Linked DNA regions of Homo sapiens. The protein of the gene in region 3 purifies or fractionates together with the protein of the main gene of each other region. This does not show direct contact. Each region holds a gene or a part of one and is shown on either strand. Other genes may lie near its edges.

Evidence for each region.
Region 1: the proteins of ASGR2 (region 3) and MFSD8 purify together in Homo sapiens (affinity purification with mass spectrometry; 3 studies listed by BioGRID and IntAct, with this or other methods). This does not show direct contact.
Region 2: the proteins of ASGR2 (region 3) and LMAN2L purify together in Homo sapiens (affinity purification with mass spectrometry; 4 studies listed by BioGRID and IntAct, with this or other methods). This does not show direct contact.

Annotation. Positions count from the first base shown.
Region 1 is NC_000004.12:127,919,808-127,927,935, reverse strand, and holds part of MFSD8 (major facilitator superfamily domain-containing protein 8), read left to right. Parts: intron 1-5,972; coding exon 5,973-6,076; intron 6,077-6,164; coding exon 6,165-6,412; coding exon of another isoform or gene 6,413-6,421; exon of another isoform or gene 6,422-7,099; coding exon 7,100-7,306; 3' UTR 7,307-8,128. UniProt on the Homo sapiens protein: Outward-rectifying chloride channel involved in endolysosomal chloride homeostasis, membrane fusion and function. Conducts chloride currents up to hundreds of picoamperes.
Region 2 is NC_000002.12:96,708,699-96,716,826, reverse strand, and holds part of LMAN2L (VIP36-like protein isoform 2 precursor), read left to right. Parts: intron 1-3,687; coding exon of another isoform or gene 3,688-3,720; intron 3,721-4,801; coding exon 4,802-4,963; intron 4,964-5,056; coding exon 5,057-5,171; intron 5,172-8,128. UniProt on the Homo sapiens protein: May be involved in the regulation of export from the endoplasmic reticulum of a subset of glycoproteins. May function as a regulator of ERGIC-53.
Region 3 is NC_000017.11:7,100,196-7,105,320, reverse strand, and holds the end of ASGR2 (asialoglycoprotein receptor 2), read left to right. Parts: intron 1-3,124; coding exon 3,125-3,231; intron 3,232-3,580; coding exon 3,581-3,746; 3' UTR 3,747-3,995; downstream 3,996-5,125. UniProt on the Homo sapiens protein: Mediates the endocytosis of plasma glycoproteins to which the terminal sialic acid residue on their complex carbohydrate moieties has been removed. The receptor recognizes terminal galactose and N-acetylgalactosamine units.

The sequences.
Region 1 (8,128 bases), on a different chromosome or scaffold from region 3:
AGCCTGGGCAACATAGTGAGATCTTATCTCACTATGATATAATGAGATCCCTATTTCTTCACAGACACACACACAAACACAATTAGCTGGGTATGATGGAGCACGCCTGTAGTCCCAGCTACTTGGGAGGTTGAGGCGAGAGGATTGCTTGAACCCAGGAGTTTGAGGCTGCAGTGAGCTGTGATTGTACCACTACACTCCAGTCTGGGTGACAGAGCAAGACCCATCTCTTAAAAAAAGAATCATTTTGTAAAAGTACAACTGTAAGGAACATATTTTTAGGGAAATGCTTGTGTAAAATTAAGTTCAGTCATATAGTCTATGGTGGAACATTAGTTGATGAATTTAGACAGTTCTATTTAAGTATTCCTCAAATACAGATACTCTTTAACTTGCAATGGGGCTACATCCTGATAAACTGATCATCATAAGTTGAAAATAGCACTAAGTTGAAAATACAGGCTGGGTGCAGTGGCTCACGCCTGCAATCCCAGCACTTTGGGAGGCCAAGGCGGGCAGATCACCTGAGGTCAGAAGTTCGAGACCAGCCCGGCCAACGTGGTGAAACCCCGTCGTAACTAAATACACAAAAATTAGCTGGGTGTGGTGGCCAGTGCCTGTAATCACAGCTGCTCCACAGGTGGAGGCACAAGAATCGCTTGAACCCAGGAGGTGGAGGTTGCAATGAGCCATTGCATTCCAGCCTGGATGACAAGAGTGAAATTCCATCTCAAAAAAAGCGAAAAACAAAAAAAAAAAAACATTTAATACACCTAACCTACGGAGCATTGTAGCTTAGCTTAGCCTACTTTAAACACACTCCAACACTCACATTAGTTTTCAGTTTGGCTAAATCATCTAACACAAAGCGTATTTTATAATAAAGTGTTGGATATCTCATGTAATTTGCCAAATACAGTATACTGTAGATTATAGTACTGGATGTTTACCTTTGTGATCATGTGGCTGATTAGGAGCTGTGGCTCTCTGCTGCTGTCCAGCATCATGAAACAGTATCATACCACAGATCACTAGTCTGGAAAAATATCAAAATTCAAAATTTGAAGTGTGGTTTCTACTGAATGAGTATCACTTTCCTACTGTTGTAAAGCTGAACAGTTCTAAGTTGGACACTCATAAGTCAGAGACTGTATGTACTTTAATAAGGTTCTAAAATTAATCAACAAATGTTAAGTCAGTGTATCAGGTTCAGTGCTATGGGGGTACTATGAGAATTCTTGTCCTTATGGAGCCAAGTAGAGGGATCAAGATATAAGATAGACATATATTTATATTCAAAGTTAATAGGAAGTACATTACATCTTGCTACAGAAGTAGAGCAGTGCTGCTGATACACATTCTTATAGAATGTCCAATACCATCCCCTCAAAGCACGTGTATTCCAGTAGGGGGAAAGCCAATAAACACAAATGTGAAGTCAGATAGTGGTAAGTACTACAAAGAAGAATAGAAGAGAAAAGAATAAGGAGTGACAAGGGCAGGGCTGGGAAGTGGGGAAATGTTGTATTTGATACACTGCTCAAGGAAGGTATATATGAGGAAGTTACATTTAAGCTGAGACCTTAGTGAAGTCAGCAAAGAGCCATGCAATGGCCTGGATGGTCTCGATCTCCTGACCTCAGATGATCCGTCCTCCTCAGCCTCCCAAAGTACTGGGATTACAGGCGTGAGCCACCACACCCAGCCTTTATTATACTTTGAGTTCTGGAATATATGTGCAGGTTTGTTACATAGGTATAAATGTACTATGGTGGTTTGCTGCACCCATCAACCCATCATCTACATTAGGTATTTCTCCTAATGCTATCCCTCCTCTAGCCCCCCACCCCGCAATAGGCCCCTGTGTGTGATGTTCCCCTCCCTGTGTCCATGTATTCTCTTTGTTCAACTCCCACTTATGAGTGAGAACATGTGGCGTTTGTTTTTCTGTTCCTGTGTTTGCTGAGAATGATGGTTTCCAGCTTCATCCATGTTACTGTAAAAGACATGAACTCATCCTTTTTTATGGCTGCATAGTTTTCCATGGTGTATATGTGCTACATTTTCTTTATCCAGTCTGTCATTGATGGGCATTTGGGTTGGTTCCAAGTCTTTACTATTGTGAATAGTGCTGTAATAAACATACATGTGCATGTGTCTTCATAGTAGAATGATTTATAATCCTTTGGGTATATACCCAGTAATGGGATTGCTGGGTCAAATGGTATTTCTGGTTCTAGATCCTTGGGGAATTGCCACACTGTCTTCCACAATGGTTGAACTAATTTACACTCCCACCAACAGTGTAAAGGTGTTCCTATTTCTCCACATCCTCTCCAGCATCTGTTGTTCCCCGACTTTTTAATGATTGCCACTCTAACTGGTGTGAGATGGTATCTCATTGTGATTTTGATATGCATTTCTCTAATGACCAGTGATGATGAGCTTTTTTTCATATGTTTGTTGGTTGCATAAATGTCTTCTTTTGAGAAGCATCTGTTCATATCCTTTGCCCACTTTTTGATGGGGTTGTTTTTTTCTTGTAAATTTGTTTAAGTTCCTTGTAGATTCTGGATATTAGACCTTTATCAGATGGATAGATTGCAAAAATTTTCTCCCATTCTGTAGGTTGCTTGTTCACTCTGATGATAGTTTATTTTGCTGTGCAGAAGCTCTTTAGTTTAATTAGATCCCATTTATCAATTTTGGTTTTTGTTGCCATTGCTTTTGGTGTTTTAGACATGAAGTCCTTGCCCATGCCTATGTCCTGAATGGTAATGCCTAGGTTTTCTTCTAGGGTTTTTATGGTTTTAGGTCCTATGTTTAAGTCTTTGATCTTTCTTGAATTAATTTTTGTATAAGGTATAAAGAAGGGGCCCAGTCTCAGTTTTCTGCGTATGGCTAGCCAGTTTTCCCAACACCATTTATTAAATAGGGAATCCTTTCCCTATTGCTTGTTTTTGTCAGGTTTGTCAAAGATCAGATGGTTGTAGATGTGTGGTGTTATTTCTGAGGCCTCTATTCTGTTCCATTGGTCTATATATCTGTTTTGGTACAAGAATCATGCTGTTTTGGTTACTGTAGCCTTGTAGTGTAGTTTGAAGTCAGGTATTGTGATGTCTTCAGCTTTGTTCTTTTTGCTTAGGATTGTCTTGGCTATATGGGCTCTGTTTTGGTTCCGTATGAAATTTAAAGTAGTTTTTTTCTAATTCTGTGAAGAAAGTCAATGGTAGCTTGATGGGGATAGCATTGAATCCATAAGTTACTTTGGACAGTATGGCCATTTTCACAATATTGATTCTTACTGTCCATGAGCATGGAATGTTTTTCCATTTGTTTGTGTCCTCTCTTATGTCCTTTAGCAGTGGTTTGTAGTTCTCCTTGAAGAGGTCCTTCACATCCCTTGTAAGTTGTATTCCTAGATATTTTATTCTCTTTGCAGCAATTGTGAATGGCAGTTCACTCTTGATTTGGCTCTCTGTTTGTCTGTTATTGGTGTATAGGAATGCTTGTGATTTTTGCACATTGATTTTTTATCCTGAGACTTTGCTGAAGTTGCTTGTCGCTTAAGGAGATTTTGGGCACCACTGGTCCCACAGAAATACAAACTACCGTCAGAGAATACCACAGTATTCTCTAATACTATAAACACCTCTATGCAAATAAAATAGAAAATCTAGAAGACACGGATAAATTCCTGGACACATACACCCTCCCAAGACTAAACCAGGAAGAAGTCGAATCCCTGAATTGACCAATAATAAGTTCTGAGATTGAGGCAGTAATTAATAGCCTACCAACCAAAAAAAGCCCAGGACCAGATAGATTCACAGCCGAATTCTACTGGAGGTACAAAGTTTCCATTCCTTCTGAAACTCCATTCCTTCTGTAACTATGCCAAACCGTAGAAGAAGAGGGACTCCTCCCTAACTCATTTTATGAGGCCAGAATCATCCTGATACCAAAACCTGGCAGAGACACAACAAAAAAAATTTAAGGCCAATATCCCTGATGAACATCGATGCGAAAATCCTCAATAAAATACTGGCAAACCCAGGCCAGGTGCGGTGGCTCACGCCTGTAATCTCAGCACTTTGGGAGGCTGAAGTGGGTGGATCACGAGGTCAGAGGTCGAGACCATCCTGGCCAACACAGTGAAACCCCATCTCTACTAAAAATACAAAAAAAATTAGCCAGGCGTGGTGGCAGGCACCTGTAGTCCCAGCTACTCAGGAGACTGAGGCAGGAGAATGGCATGAACCCGGGAGGCGGAGTTTGCAGTGAGCCAAGTTCACGCCACTGCATACCAGCCTGGGCGACAGAGCAAGACTCTGTCTCAAATAATAATAATAATAATAATAATAATAATAATAATAATAATAAATAAAAATAAAAAATAAAATACTGGAAAACTGAATTCAGCAGCACATCAAAAAGCTTATCCACCACGATCAAATCTGCTTCATCCCTGAGATGCAAGGCTGGTTCAACATACACAAATCAATAAATGTAATCCATCTCATAAACAGAACCAATGACAAAAACCACATGATTATCTCAATATATGCAGAAAAGGCCTTTGATAAAATTCAACACTCCTTCATGCTAACAACACTCAATAAACTGATATTGATGGAACGTATCTCAAAATAATAAGCGCTATTTATGACAAACCCACAGCCAGTATCATACTGAATGGGCAAAAACTGGAAGCATTCCCTTTGAAAACCGGCACAAGACAAGGATACCCTCTCTCACCTCTCCTGTTCAACATAGTGTTGGAAGTTCTGGCCAGGGCAATCAGGCAAGAGAAAGAAATAAAGGGTATTCAATTAGGAAATGAGAAAGTCAAATTGCCTCTGTTTGCAGATGACATGATTGCTGTATTTCTTAAAAACTAGTACTTGCATCTAGAAGCTTGATGAAATTTGGGTTCAATTTTTTGGCAAGAATACTTTATAGGTGGGAATATGTGCTTATATCAGAAGAAATATAATGTTTTGTTTATCTCTTCTTAACATGTAAGTAGCCACTGATTATTCCATAGATCCATTAATTCATTAATGAATCATTACAAAATTCTGGTATTTTAATTCTATCATTCCTTTATTTATTTGCTAGAATACTTACCATGAAGAGAATCTTTCCCTCACCAACTATTTGGTTAACCTGAGCTATAGTTGTATAGGAAAGGCAGGATAAAGGCTTGATTATTTTCTTTTGTTTCCCTAACATCCTCAAAAACTGACCAAAGAGTACTTTATTTTAATATACTATGAATTCATAGATTATAACACTTTTTTTTTTTTTGGCGACAGGGTCTTGCTCTGTCACCCAGTTTGGAGTGCAGTGGTGCCATCACAGCTCATTGCAGCCTTGACCTCCTGGGCTCAAGTAATCCTCCTGCCTCAACCTCCTAAGTAGCTAGAACTACAGGCACCAAATACCACTCCTGGCTAATTTTTAAAATTTTTTGTAGAGATGGGGTCTTGCTATGTTGCCCAGGCTGGTTTTGAACTTCTGGCATCAAGCAGTCCTCCCGCTTTGGCCTCCCAAAGTACTGGGGTTATAGGTGTGAGCCACTACACCAGGCCACAGATGATAATACTTTTTGTGTGTTTCAATCCATTGCCATTATTATTCTGTTTTGGTACTCACATTGTCACATTTTTGGCCAGCTTCTTCAAATTGGCTGAGTCAAAAAGACTCATGACCTAGTAGTCACTGATAACTTCTGTGCTTTTTGCTGTGAAAGATCTGAGCTCATCTACTTTTTGTGTCCCAGACCTTAAGTCAGCCATTTTTCAGAGGAGTCCTGGTTATTTTTAGTGGAAAATTATATTTAGCATTCTTTTTAATGGATATATCACTAAAAGTACAAGATATTATTTTTAGTTTTTAAAATTATGAAAGTAATGAAGCTATGTTATAATGTTTCATTTTAAAATTACAGAGTTTCTGTTCTTTAACAGGATTGGCGAGCGTGCTATTCTACTGGGAGGACTCATCGTTGTATGGGTTGGCTTCTTTATCTTGTTACCTTGGGGAAATCAATTTCCCAAAATACAGTGGGAAGGTATAGCCATACATAATTCTATAATGTTAACCTCTGTTATTTATCTAAAATCAACAAGTAATGCACTGCAATGGTTTTGTTTTTACAGATTTGCACAATAATTCAATCCCTAATACCACATTTGGGGAAATTATTATTGGTCTTTGGAAGTCTCCAATGGAAGATGACAATGAAAGACCAACTGGTTGCTCGATTGAACAAGCCTGGTGCCTCTACACCCCGGTGATTCATCTGGCCCAGTTCCTTACATCAGCTGTGCTAATAGGATTAGGCTATCCAGTCTGCAATCTTATGTCCTATACTCTATATTCAAAAATTCTAGGACCAAAACCTCAGGTAAGCCAGGTACCCTGACATTGCAATTATAGAAAATATACTTGTAAGCACTCAACATTTTTTGCTGCCATTCTCTATTTTTACACAGACTGATTTGAGGGATTTTTATCATATTCAGCATTTAAAATTTTTAAAAATCCCACAACTTCTATAAAGTTCATTCTTGGGTAGGTTATGTGGGTTATAGTTTTGGATACAGAAGTTGTAGGAGTGGCATTGTGGTAGAGTGTAAAGTGGCACAGTGGAGTCAGCCAAATATGGCTTCAAACCTCTTGAACAAGTTACTTAAACTTTCTGAGTTTCAGCTTCTACCTTTGTTAAACAGGCATAACACCTGTCATCGAAACTTGTGAACATTACAAATGATGTATTTAAAGCACCTACCTCAGTGACTGGCATGTAGCAGGTACAAAATAAATGTTAGCTTTAAAAGGTATTTTAATCAATTTTATTATTCCCAGGGCTTCAGCAGACAGTAAGTTTTTCCCTTTACACTCCTTTTATTTTTTTTAATCTGACTTAATATTAAATGCTATATTTATAGGAGGCATTTTATGTTTAATTTAAAAGTAAAAGATGCAGAAATGATTCTTGTAAGTTTGCTGTAGTTTGGTAATACCATTTCTTTGCTTTTAAATAACTAAACCCCAATATCAATCTGCTTGTCCTCCATTTCACCCCCAACAGGGTGTATACATGGGCTGGTTAACAGCATCTGGAAGTGGAGCCCGGATTCTTGGGCCTATGTTCATCAGCCAAGTGTATGCTCACTGGGGACCACGATGGGCATTCAGCCTGGTGTGTGGAATAATAGTGCTCACCATCACCCTCCTGGGAGTGGTTTACAAAAGACTCATTGCTCTTTCTGTAAGATATGGGAGGATTCAGGAATAAACTAGCTAAGACTGTGATGGAAACTACTTGCTGTGTGGCACTTCCTGGTCTAAAGCTCTGCTAGACAATTGCGGTGAGCCAGTCTCCAAGAATCAGACTACAGATATTGCAGATTTTGAAGAACAAGAACATATGTTGAATAACAGAGAGAATTCTACATGTCATTGTGAATAGTAGGTTATATAAAAACATACTAGATGATAATTTCCTTACCTCAGAAATGAAATATTATTCTTATAATACCTTTTTGTGGTTGCATGAACTAATGAGTGAATGGACAATGATGAATAAATGTGAAGCTGTATTCTTAATACCCACTGCAGAAGTGTCATTAAAATAATATACAGTGGAACCAGAAAGAGGGTTCTGTAAGAATTAGCCATAGCAGAACAAAATTATAGAATTTTAAATACCTCTACCCAAGTAGAGGTATTTTTATTCAGACACCTACTTTTTATTTATAAAAAAATGCATTTTCTATTATCAAGTTCACTTATGAAATAAAAATTATAACACATATTTTCCATTTAGCGTGCCTAACATCCTACCTTGCCTTCTATGAGTCTTTCTTCTAATACTACACCTCTGCCTTATTTTAGTTCAGGGTTTCACTAAGTAACCCCTACATTAATAAATGAGTATGGATAATGCTAATATTTGAGCAATACAGAGGATTAAGAGATCAAGATACTTCACTGCCTATTAGCCTAATAGGGATACCTACTTTCTTTCAAATGCCAAAAATTCACATTAGAAACATAATCCAGATATGTGTTATTTTATATATATATATACAAAACAGTAAATGGTTTCTTAAAATTA
Region 2 (8,128 bases), on a different chromosome or scaffold from region 3:
TATTGAGAGATATTGAAAGCAGTGTATCCCAGTGATTGAGTCAGGGCTCTGGAGCCAGAATACTTGGTTTCAAATCCTGATTTCACTACTTAATGCCTGTGTTATCCTGGACAAGTTTTTTACCTGTGAAATGAGGAGTACTGATACTACCTCATAGGATTGTGAGAATTAAATGCAGAAGGGCTCATTACTGAGTTCAGTGCCTGGCACAGACTAAGTGCTCAATAAACACCAGCTATTATTCACACCATTCAGTGGATTCCTAAGGGACATTTTGCAAACATCTTAGTTCTGTTCTCTCTTCCTCTCCCCTCCTTCACTTCTTCACATCTGGGTTCCCAAAAGCAAATGGTCAGCTTACTAGACAATGGTATGGTTTGAGATGGAAACACTGCTCTAAAAGAGTGGCTCCTAGATGCCAGTGTATGAACTCCAGTTGTGTGGTAACAGAGTTTTCACTGGTGCAAGAATCATAATAATGAAGTTCTTTTTCTTAAGTGCTAAATGTATTCAGTTGTTTCATTATGAAATTACATTGTTCTCTCTCATCTTTTGGTGTTAAAGTGTCCCTTTGTAAAATGATGTTTATTATAGATGATTGTTCTGTCATTATTGTATTTTAATATTTTTAGTAGGCAATAAAAAGAAGCCAAATCTAATACTCTCCAAAATATTTTTGGAAATATTAATGGTTGATCACAGCCAGTGGTCTGGGAATTCGTGCTTTAGAAGATGTATGTTTGGCTTTGTGTTTATATATATATGAGTACCTGTGAACGATATTTGTATCTAGAAATACACTAGTCACTGATTGAATGTTTATTGACTCCCTCCTGAACACCAAGACATTGTACTAAATGCTTCGCATATCTCATTTCATCTTCATAATGAACCCTGTGAGCTTTGTATTGTTCTGTTTACAGTGAGGAAATAGAATCTCAAAGAGGTGATGTAATCCACCGAAGGGTTACACAGCTATAAGTGACATAACTGCAGTTAGAACTCAGGTCTCCCTAATTACAGAGGCCATTTGGAATTTTAGCCTAGAATCCATAAATCCACAAGCTAATGGGTGTCTTTTCCATCGAAATATGCTGAAGATACAGTTATCCCGTAGAGGTCTTCAAAAAACACTTTTTTAAAAGTAGTCTTGTAGTACAAAAAGTTGAAAACATTTCTCCACCCTTTAAACAACAGTCCTTTGGATGATAAAACAGGTGAGAGTTTCTCCTTTCTGGTGACTCTTAAATTAGGAATAAAACTACCACCTTGCCTGAACCAGTGTGATTCTTCAATCTTTGGTTCTAACTTACAGAGTGCTTTCTAGGGGAAAAACAAAATTGCTCCTGTGTGAAATTAGTGGTTATCCAAGAAATACTTCCAGGAACTCTTGACTAGGCGTAGAAAATAAGATGGCATTTAGTGACTTACACTAATGTGAGGTTAAAAGTTGAAGGCCAACTCGTGTTGCCGAAGTAGACAGATTCTCTGTAGTTGCAAAGCTGTGAGGCTCCCTGTCTGGTGCAGCGTTTCTTCAATTTGGCTGCACATCACAGCCTTCTGTGGTGCTTTTTAAAAATACATAATCCTGGCTGGGTGCGGTGGCTCACGCCTGTAATCCCAGCACTTTGGGAGGCCAAGACGGGCAGATCACGAGATCAGGAGTTCGAGACCAGCCTGACCAACATGGTGAAACCCCATCTCTACTAAAAATACAAAAATTAGCTGGGCATGGTGGCGAGCGCCTGTAATCCCACCTACTCATAAGGCTGAGGCAGGAGAATTGCTTGAACCCAGGAGGTGGAGGTTGCAGTGAGCCAAGATTTCGCCACTGCACTCCAGCCTGGGTGACAGAGTGAGACTCCATCTCAAAAAAACAAACAAAAAACAATCCTGCACCCCACTCTAGCCATACGAATGAGACTCTTTGACTGAGGGACCCATGTATACGTGCAGTTAACAAGCTCCTTCAGGTGCTCCCAAGGTCCAGCATGCCTCTGGCTGTTACCTGGAACTGGGTCCACACCAGCCTTGGGAAGAGTAAGGCACCCTTAGGCTAAGGATTGCTGTCTCTTTATTATTTGTTTATTTTCTAAGCAAGCTAACATAGGAGATTGCTATCTCTTTAAAGTTGCAACTTAAACTTCTAATCAGGGTTACTAGAGGTGATGAGTGAAGGAAGCCTTGGGCTCATCAGAGCTCCACAGGGCATTTTTAATCCCTTTTTCTTAATTGTCACTGAAATTATGAGCATACTCTCAGATGCCAGTTTCTGTAAACTGCTTGATAACATGCTCACCATTTCCTTGTTCTAAATGGTAGTTGTTGAAGATTAACTTCATGCCAGTTTAATCATCCACGGATTGATGTCATGCCTTTCTGTGTCCTGTATGAATTCTGCCAGTGGTGTTAAGAGGAGGACGGCAGGGGATCTGCACTGCAGCCTCGGACTCCTGGCTGTGGCCCATGGAGCCCAGTGCCGTGGGTGCTGCCTTGCCTCATGGCAGCCTCTTCTCACAAGCTGTGATTCTGACTGATCTGTTTCCAGTTCCTTGAATGTGCCACCCTCATGCTTCTTGTGCCCTCAGATCTTTTGGTGGACTCCCTCTAATTACTTGAGTCTCAGCTCAGATATTGCCTCCTCAGGGAGAGGTTCCCTTGCCCATCCCTTGTATTACCTATTTTATTTTCCTTATAGCATTTTTCACTATCTGAAATAATTTTATTTGCTTCTTTGTTGTTTGTTTCTTCCACTCTGATCTTAATTCCATTCCTGTCTGTCTTGTTTCTCTTTGGACCCTCAGCATCTGGAACAGTACCTGGCTTGTAGTAGGTGTTCACCGTATTAAAGGAGTGAAGGGTTTGAGTTCTGTACCCTCGCCTACCTGTCCCACAGGGCAGAGCTGAGCTGAGCTTGTGTAGGTACCTCTTGTCGCTAATGGCTTAGAACTGCAGCTGTTTGCTGGAGCAGAGCTTAATACCCTCACGCCTGATGATTTTCTAAATCTGTCATTCTGCAATGCCTCCATGGAGCTTCTTCCTTGCCTATGTGTGGTAGGTTAGAATGACAATAGTTATTTGGGAATATATGACCATAAGGCTCAGTTAGAGGGTAAGTGATCCCTTTGGATTAGAGTTAGTTTCATAGTCTCTCAAGTGGCAAGATTTTGGTCTTCTGGGCAGGAGCTGTTTCCTGAGATCCTGGATAGTAAAGGATGTCTTGAATTTGGAAGAATTTAGCCCTGTTGTCTCCTCTTTCCCCTTGCTATAGAAATACAGTAGGCTGGGTACAGACAAACTTGAGACTGACTCCCAGAGACATAAGTGCGGCGTGCCTGGACAGCGTACTGCTATGTGTTTTATAAAGTGCCTTCCAAAAGCTTCAGGACCCTCTATGGGTTAGAGCGGTCTTCCTAGGGGACCCCTTTGAGAATCTGATATAGTAACAGACCCTCTCCTCAGAAAAATGTACAAGCACCCGTGCATATGGTTTTGCCTATCATCTTGAGGGTGCAAAGACTTCACGGATGCCCTTCAGGGACCCTAAAATTCTGTTTGGGGATTTAAGTTGGTTTGTTCATCCATCACAGCTGGGTCATAGCTCTTCTGTGGCTGTGTCTTTCTGACTTGGTCTCCTGTCTTCTGTGCCCTCTCTTGTTTTTATCATAACCTGCTGGACCCTCTCAGGCCCAGAAGAGGCGATATTCTCCAGGAGTCCAGGTACTCAGTTCTTGGCTCATCATGAGCATCCCTCATTCCCATGTGTCCATCCAACATTTGTTGCTGTTTCAAGTCCATGTGGTTGTCTCAGGAGTCCCCGGTCTCTGGTCTCGACTGCATCTCCATCTTGCATGTTAACCATTTGGGACAAAGGGACAAATACTCCCCAAAGGAGTGGCATGCCTCATGTTACCCCTTCACCACCTCACTACCCTGCCTTTTTGCACTGCCTTGGCATTGGGCTTGTTCTGGAATGATTAGTTCGCCATTTCTAAGGAAGAATTGCTCCTACAACTCTACTGGGGAGAGAGGGCCCCTGAAATAGATGGGAAAATGAGTGGCTTATGGGAAAACTTGCAATTTTCTCCCTGTTAAGGGAGAACCTTGCCCTCTTATTATTATTCGGAGAAGTTACGTGTGGAGGAGGCTTAAGTGGGCTGGAAAGTCTTTTGACTAAGGACAGTCATTGTGGCTGGCTGAGCCCATCCAGCAACCCCGTTCCATGTTCTGAGTTCTAATCCATTTAGCCTTATATGCTTATAGAATTTTAGAATTGAAAAGAGCTATCCTGAATGGAAAGATTCCCCTGCTCAAACAGGTATTTTCAGAATACCCGCTGTGTGCAGAACCATGGTTGGGAGGAGATGGGGCTGAAGTTTAGACATATGAAGACGTGATGAATGAATTTTTTCTTCAAGAAGCTTATGTGGCAGTTGGGGAGATAGGTACATATACACGAAAAGGAAACCCCTGGTATTAGGCGGCACATAAGTGCCAAATGGTGACCTTGGGGCATTCAAGTCAGACTCCAGCGTCTTAGGAGGACCACTTCAGGCCCACCCCAGTTCAGGAGCCAAGAGAATTACTGAAGGCAAATACCAAGTGTAGTCGCTTCCTGGGCCCATTTCCCTTGAGAGACCATCTGAATGTGGGCTCTCAGGGGCTGCTGACAATGAGGTCGAGTGGCTGCCTATTCTGCTGTAAGGGGCTCAACTTGTATGTGCTGAATTCCTGTTGCTGTTTGTACAGGCGTTCCTATGTGCTCTTCCTTAGTGTCTGCTTCCCCCTCTCTGCTTTCCAGCGGGTATTCCCCTACATCTCAGCCATGGTGAACAACGGCTCCCTCAGCTATGATCATGAGCGGGATGGGCGGCCTACAGAGCTGGGAGGCTGCACAGCCATTGTCCGCAATCTTCATTACGACACCTTCCTGGTGATTCGCTACGTCAAGAGGCATTTGACGGTGAGAGTCCTTGTCCTGGACCAGATGGTGGTGTGGGCTGTGTCGCTCTTGCTCCCATGGCCTGACCCTGATTTATCTCTCTTTTTATTCTAGATAATGATGGATATTGATGGCAAGCATGAGTGGAGGGACTGCATTGAAGTGCCCGGAGTCCGCCTGCCCCGCGGCTACTACTTCGGCACCTCCTCCATCACTGGGGATCTCTCAGGTACTGCCACGCGCACTCTTGGTTTGCCCTGACTGAGGCCTCTTCTCAATACCCACACTTCATTGAGGCCTCTCACAGGGGAGAGCCAGAGGAGCGGTGCTCTGGAAGGAGGTGCCTCAAGACTGCTTCTCCTTCTGCATTCTTATATCCACATTCCTTAAAAACCCACGCCAGGCTTTCCTAGTACAGTTGTCACTAGAAGATGGTTGGTGCTAATAGAAAGCAGTGTTTGTCCCTTCATTAAGCTGGCTCTTCTAGCCTGTATCGTGAGTTCCTTGCTTTCTGATTTCTGCTGTCAGGCTCCTCTCCTTCCAACCACTAATGTTCCCCGTTCCCCTTCCTTAACAAAGCTTTTCCTTGACTTTGCCGTCCCTCTTCTGACCCCAGACTCTCCTTTTGCTGAGACTTTTGAATGTGTTGTGTGTACAGATCCTTTTGTTTCCTAGCTGTCCACCTCCTTAACATGCTGACTCAGACCTGTGCTCTATCTTGCTAGTACACTAACACCATTCTCATGAAAGGTCATTCTGTTTCCTTGCCATATTCAGTACTCTATTCTCGTTCTCACCCTTTGTCCTCCTCAGCTCATTTAACCCATTACCCTGAAACTCTTGCCTTCTTGACTTATGTGACATTAACAGCACCTGGTTCTTTTACTTTTCCATCTCCTCTTGTTTCTTTTTCTACTTATGCCTGATTCGTAGCTTCTCGTTTATACACTTACTCTCTTTGCTTGAACCCCAATCATAACATCTTTTGGGAAGAGAAAAGGAACTGAACTTCTGTTTCTTTTGATTAATATAATTTGTTCTGGATAAAGCTAGTTTGGAATAGAAGTTTCTTGTGGCAAAATAGAAAGGCAGATACCCATCTGAAAAAGCCGACAGCTAGTGAGCTCCAGCCATTGTAGCTAAAAGGAAATGTCAGCTCAGTGAGGCTAAATCTTCCAGTTTTTCAAGAGCAGTTGGAATTCTGGATTTTTTTTTATATATATATATGGAGTCTCGCTCTGTCGCCAGGCTGGGGTGCAGTGGCGCCATGTCAGCTCACTGCAACCTCCACCTCCTGTATTCAAGCGATTCTCCTGCCTCAGCCTCCCAAGTAGCTGGGACTACAGGCGCGCCACCACGCCCAGCTAATTTTTGTATTTTTAGTAGAAACGGGGTTTCACCATGTTGGCCAGGATGGTCTCCATCTCGACCTTGTGATCCGCCCGCCTTGGCCTCCGAAAGTGCTGGGATTACAGGCATGAGCCACTGAGCCCAGCCTGGATAATCTGGATTTTTAAAATGCAATCTGCTGATCTTTAAAACTCTGGCATCTGATTTTTTTAAAATCAACTTTACTGAGGTGTGCTTTCCATACAACAGAAGAATACAGTTTGAAGAGTTTTGACAAATATTTACACCTATGTAGTCACCATCACAATTAAGATATGAATGTTTCCATCACCTGCCAAAAGCCTTATTATCCCCCTTTGCAGTATTCCTCCCCTTCTTGGATTCCAGGCAACCATTGATCTGCTTTCTGTCATGCAGAGAGATTAGTTTTGGCAATTAGGTTCTAAGTACCGAGCAGGCCAGACCTGTGGGAAAAATTTAGTCTCGGCAGGGGGATAGGAGGCATAGGCTGGAGATCTTTGCTATATAATCTCATTATATGACTACACATTTTCCTTTGAGCTTACAGGTTTCTGGGTTAACCTCCTGACGTACTTTTTAATGGAAAGTCCCCAACTGTCAGAAATGGCAGGGGAGAATAATTTTTTGTTTAGTCTAAGTTTTTTGCCCTAGGTCTTTAGTGAGAATACCCAAGTTAGTAAGTCTGTGTTCTCTGCCCATAGGGTATCCCTAAATGCAAGTTGTTTCTTTCTTTTGAGGTCTTTCTTGTTGCCATCCTCTTACTTGTTGTATAGTAGGTTGTTGAAAACTGCTGAGAAAGTTAGGATGTTTCCCAGCCGTTCCAGGCTTTAATGCCCTGCATTGCATGAGGAGCATTGCCCTGGCCTTTTATCCTGTCCCATGGTTTAAACTGAGCTCTGACAGTTAACATTTTTCCAACAGAAGATGAATCCAGTTTTTCACTACCTGGGAATCTGCTAAAGATTCTAGCAGTCCAAGCAGCTGTGGATGCTCTCCTTATAAATGACCAGAAATCCAGGCCCCAGTCAGTAACCAACCTAGTAGCAATGAGCACCCCTAGCACTCAGATTTGTGGTCTCTAAATACCAATTCCCCCTAAAAGGAACTGCAGCTTCCTTGAGAAATGGCTGATGCAGGGTTTGAGGTAGGAAATCTATAAGTTGGAACTTCCCAGAAAAGCAAGGAAGTTATAAAAAACTTCTGGGTTTATGTAAAGAGACGCAGGAGCCAAACTGAATAGGCTCCTACTTGACAAAGACAGGTGAGTTGAGCATCAATAAGAATCTAACTTCAGGCCAGGCGCGGTGGCTCACGCCTGTAATGCCAGCACTTTGGGAGGCCACGGCAGGTGGATCACCTGAGGTTGGGAGTTCGAGACCAGCCTGACCAACATGGAGAAACCCCATCTCTACTAAAAAAAAAATACAAAAAATTAGCCGGGCGTGGTGGTGCATGCCTGTAATCCCAGCTACTTGGGAGGCTGAGGCAGGGGAATTGCTTGAACCTGGGAGGCAGAGGTTGCAGTGAGCCGAGATCGTGCCATTGCACTCCAGCCTGGGCAACAAGAGCAAAACTCTGTCTCAAAAAAAAAAAAAAAAAAAAAAAGTCTAACTTCAGTGCATTGCAACACATCAGATATGGTTAAATGTAGGAGTTTATAATGATACTTTAAAGAGAGAAATCTAGTCCCTAATTGCTTGATCTTCTCTCTGGTAATTATTAGGGAGATTAAGAGTCACAAGTACAAGAAGCCACAGAGAAACAGGCATAGTCTAGAAGGGCAGTGTATCCCATGCCCATAGCTGTGCCCTGCCC
Region 3 (5,125 bases):
CTCATTTACATTCTAATAGATATGTTTAACCCTAGTCCTTTCTTTTTTCTGCTTTACATGCTTCTTAATTTTCTTACAATTGCTATGTGAGAGGTGTTCTTTTTGTTTTCTTCTTTATGGTATTTTGGAAACTATGTAGTTTATTTAGAGTTATTCCAGTGATTACTTGTATAACTTTAAATAATAGGCTGAAAATTATTGGCTTTGAAAACTAAAAGTTTGTATAACTTCCATAGGAAAGGTGAGGAGACCAGGATACCTCTTATTCCCATGTGTCTGAGTCTTTCCTTTCCTAGGTTCCTTAAGTGTTGTATCTGAAAAAAAAAAAAAATTTTTTTTTTTTTTGAGATGGAGTCTTGCTCTGTCGCCCAGGCTGGAGTGCAATGGCGCGATCTTGGCTCACTGCAACCTCTGCCTCCCAGGTTCAAGCAATTCTCCTGTCTTAGTATCCCGAGTAGCTGAGATTACAGGCACCCGCCATCGTGCCTGGCTAACTTTTATATTTTTTAGTAGAGACAGGGTTTCACCATGTTGGTCAGGCTGGTCTTGAACTCCTGACCTCGTGATCCGCCCGCCTTGGCCTCCTGAAGTGCTGGGATTACAGGTGTGAGCCACCACGCCCGGCCCCTCAAGTGTTTTATCTGAAATTTTTTGTTTATTTTTATTTTTTGAAATGGAGACTTGCTCTTTCGCCCAGGCTGGAGTGCAGTGACACGATCTCGACTCATTGCAAGCTCTGCCTCCCGGTTCAAGCAATTCTCCTGCCTCAGTCTCCCGAGTAGCTAGGATTACAGGTGCCTGCCACCATGCCTGGCTAATATTTATATTTTTAGTAGAGACAAGGTTTCACCATGTTGGCCAGGCTGGTCTTGAACTCCTGACCTCAGGTGATCCTCCCGCCTGGCCTTCCCAAAGTGCTAGGATTACAGGCATGAGCCACTACGCCTGGCTTTTTTTTTTTTTTTTTTTTTTAAGACAGAGTTTTGCTCTTTTTGACCAGGCTGGAGTGCAATGGCACGATCTTGGCTCACTACAACCTCCGCCTCCCAGGTTCAAGCGATTCTCCTGCCTCAGCCTCCCAAGTAGCTGGGATTACAGGCATGCGCCAACACGCCTGGCTAATTTTGTATTTTTAGTGGAGATGAGGTTTCTCCGTGTTGGTCAGGCTGGTCTCCAATTCCCGATCTCAGGTGATTCACCTGCCTTGGCCTCCCATAGTGCTGGGATTACAGGCGTGAGCCACCACACCTGGGCTTTTTTTTTTAGTATGTAGCTCAAACTTTTCATTTCCTTTCCTTATCATGTTCTCTTTTTTTTTTATATCTTCTTTCATGTTTTATGTCATTCTTTTTAAAATTTTTGAAGCATGTAAAGAAACTGTTCTTGGGAGCGGGGAGGGAGAGCATTAGGAGATATACCTAATGTTAAATGACGAGTTAATGGGTGCAGCACACCAACATGGCACATGTATACATATGTAACAAACCTGCACGTTGTGCACATGTACCCTAAAACTTAAAGTATAATAATAATAAAAAAGAAACTGTTCTCCAACATCCCCTCATATTCCGAAACAAGGCTTCTTTTCAAAGTCTATTTTTCACCTCTCTTTTTGATATCACAGTTCATTTTTCATCTGCCTCATCTTCCTCTTTCTTTTTGGGGGCATAAGTTCCATGATGATTTTCTCCATTACTTTTGTGAATGGGCACAGTGCTTTCTTTCCTATGGTTCACCCAGGAAAGGGGGAATGAATTCTCCCGGACTGTCTTCTCTGATCATCTGGCATGATTTGATTCCTCCTCTCAGTCTTTAACACGGCGGGCTGGATACTGCTAATTTGTAGTCTGCTCAGTTGTTCTGTTTCTCGTGGTGATGGGAGGGAGGGCTGGCAGCAGGTAGCAGCACATAGTGTGTGTTGTCTCCAGGCACTTTCTCTCCAACTCCGTTGACTCCTCTGAATTTGGGGAGCAGCCTCACCTGCCTCTGAGGGCTGCCCCTTCATGCATGGGACTTTGTCCTATTTGTGGGATTCCAGAATTTAGGGATGCCCCAGTTTCTGATGCTCAATCGGAAGAGGTGAATAACTGCAACCTTAGTTGTTTTTCTAGAGAGTGAGAGTAGAATTAGGCAATTGTCCTTCAAATACTGTTGGAAGGAAAATTCCAGGCTGTCAAAGGGAATTGTTAAGTGTGCACGTTGCTCAACGGATCCATCCCTCTCCACTTTCTCCACAAAACCAGGTGACCACACCTTCCCCTCCTACCCTACCGAACCACGGGACCTAGGTCCCCAGGAACAGCTGTATGTGTAAGAGAAAGCCACTTGGAGGGGCTACCGTGCTGGGAGTGTGGGTGCGCGTGGGTCCCGGGGAGCTATCTGCAGGCTCGAAGTCCACTTTCACCCAAGCCCCTGGCAACTGGCTGTCCGGGCTGCTTCCTCACACCCCGGTGTCTTCCTATTTTGCCCCGATTGTCAGACTCCACGTAGCTAGATCATAATGGGGCCCTGGGCAGTGGGTCCAAGCTTAGAAGCTCCCGGGCCTGACAGATCTCAGGAAATGACAGCTACACATAGAAGCGAGAGCTACCAGGGGCCAATGTACTTGAGAGGCCAGTGAAACTGAGATCTTCAGTGGGTCTGGGGTCTGGGGGGCAGTAAGAGCAGGGACCAGGGTCGGGATCCCAGGAGTTCGAGGCTGTGGGCAGAAGACAGGGAGAGAACCGGAACTTGGGTAGAGCCATAAGCTGGGAATGAAGGGGGACACCGGCCCAGGGCTGTGAACAGGGGACAGTGGCCACTAACTCAGGTACAGGATTGGCTCTCTGGCTCTGCAACTCCCTGCAAAATGTGGTCACTGCAGTGCCCATCTTAGAGAGCTTCTGAGGATTAAATGAGATCATCTTTGCACAGACAGCACGAAGTCTAGCCTAGCAAATGTGCACTGAACAGTAGCTAGAGTGACGGAAGAAAAAGCTAGGAAGCAGTCTTGTCGGGAGCTGGTGCTTCAGCCTGAGGGCAGATCAGGCTGGGGAAGGCTGAGAGGGGCCACAGTTCCATGCCTGCATGGAGGGAGGAGAAAGGCACAAGAGACTAGAAATTTCCTGTTTGCCTGTGTTTCCAGAAATTCATTGTACAACACACGAACCCCTTCAATACCTGGATAGGTCTCACGGACAGTGATGGCTCTTGGAAATGGGTGGATGGCACAGACTATAGGCACAACTACAAGTAAGTGGCCTCTTCCCTCATCTCCTTGTTAGATTTCTCTGGGGACAGCCCCCTGGCCTTTCACTCCAAGCTACCCTGACTCGTCCCTCAGGGACCAAATTCCCCAATCCTCTCCTCCCCAGACTCCAACCCCTCCAAAGCTGTGCTCTTCTGGGCTGGGGGTGAGGGTTGCTGGGACTGGGCATAGGAAACATCTTTCTCTGCGGTTGGGTTCTCCCCAGACTGGGTAGCAGGGCACACCCCAGCTCCACTCTCGGCCTTCAAGGAAAATGGTCATGAAGAGGAGGAGGATGGGTAAGTCGCTTTCTCACCACCGTGGCAGAGTCCGAGTTTTCTCTTGCCTCCTTAGGAACTGGGCTGTCACTCAGCCAGATAATTGGCACGGGCACGAGCTGGGTGGAAGTGAAGACTGTGTTGAAGTCCAGCCGGATGGCCGCTGGAACGATGACTTCTGCCTGCAGGTGTACCGCTGGGTGTGTGAGAAAAGGCGGAATGCCACCGGCGAGGTGGCCTGACCCCAGCACACCTCTGGCTAACCCATACCCCACACCTGCCCAGCTCTGGCTTCTCTGTTGAGGATTTTGAGGAAAGGAAGAAACACTGAGACAGGGGTATGGGGAAGAGCTGAGCAAAGAGAGAAAGGAGGTAGTTTAAGAGTCCCTGACCCTGGAGGACTGAGATCCCACCTCCTTCTGTAATTCATTGTAATTATTATAATCGTCAGCCTCTTCAATGGCGTAGGAAAGAAGAAACAAATGCTTGAATCTCTGTGTGGCCTGGTTATTGGGAACTGAGAAACAGCATGCAAAGAGGAGGGAGAGGGGAGGGCATGGAAGACGCAAGGCGCGCATCCTAGACAGCTGCTCCTTGGTCCCTAATCCCGAGGGACATTGGTCAGGGAAACGGGAAAGGGGCTTGGAGCAGACAGGCTTAGTGGCTGGCACTGGTGGGAAAGGGGTCGGCCGGGCTGTGGCTGGAGGGTCCGCCTGGCTCCCAGTGAGAGGTGACAGCGTGCTGGCAGTCCTCACAGCCCTCGCTCGCTCTCGGCGCCTCCTCTGCCTGGGCTCCCACTTTGGCGGCACTTGAGGAGCCCTTCATCCCGCCGCTGCACTGTGGGAGCCCCTTTCCGGGCTGGCCAAGGCCGGAGCCGGCTCCCTCAGCTTGCAGGGAGGTGTGGAGGGAGCGGCGCTTGCGGGCCAGCGCGATTTCCGGGTGGGCGTGGACTCGGCGGACCCCGCACTCGGAGTGGCCGGCCTGCCCCACCGGCCGCGGGCAGTGATGGGCTTAGCACCTGAGCCAGCAGCTGCTGTGCTCAATTTCTCGCCACGCCTTAGCTGCCTTCCCGCGGGGCAGGGCTTGGGACCCGCAGCCCGCCATGCCTGAGCCTCCCCGACCCCCGCTCCGTGGGCTCCTGTGCGGCCCGAGCCTCCCCGACCAGCGCCGCCCCCTGCTCCAGGGCGCGCTCAGTGCCATCGACCACCCAAGGGCTGAGGAGTGCGGGCGCAGGGCGCGGGACTGGCAGGCAGCTCCACCTGCGGCCCCAGTGCAGGATCCATGGGGTGAAGCCAGCGGGGCTCCTGAGTCTGGTGGGGACTTGAAGAACCTTTATGTCTAGCTAAGGGATTGTAAATGCACCAATTGGCACTCTGTATCTAGCTCAAGGTTTGTAAACACACCAATCAGCACCCTGTGTCTAGCTCAGGGTTTGTGAATGCACCAATTGACACTCTGTATCTAGCTACTCTGGTCGGGAAGTCGAGAACCTTTGTGCCTAGCTCAGGGATTGTAAACGCACCAATCAGGCCAGATAAGAGAATAAAAGCAGGCTGCCCCAGCCAGCAGCGGCAACCCACTCGGGTCCCCTGCCACACTGTGGAAGCTTTGTTCTTTCGCT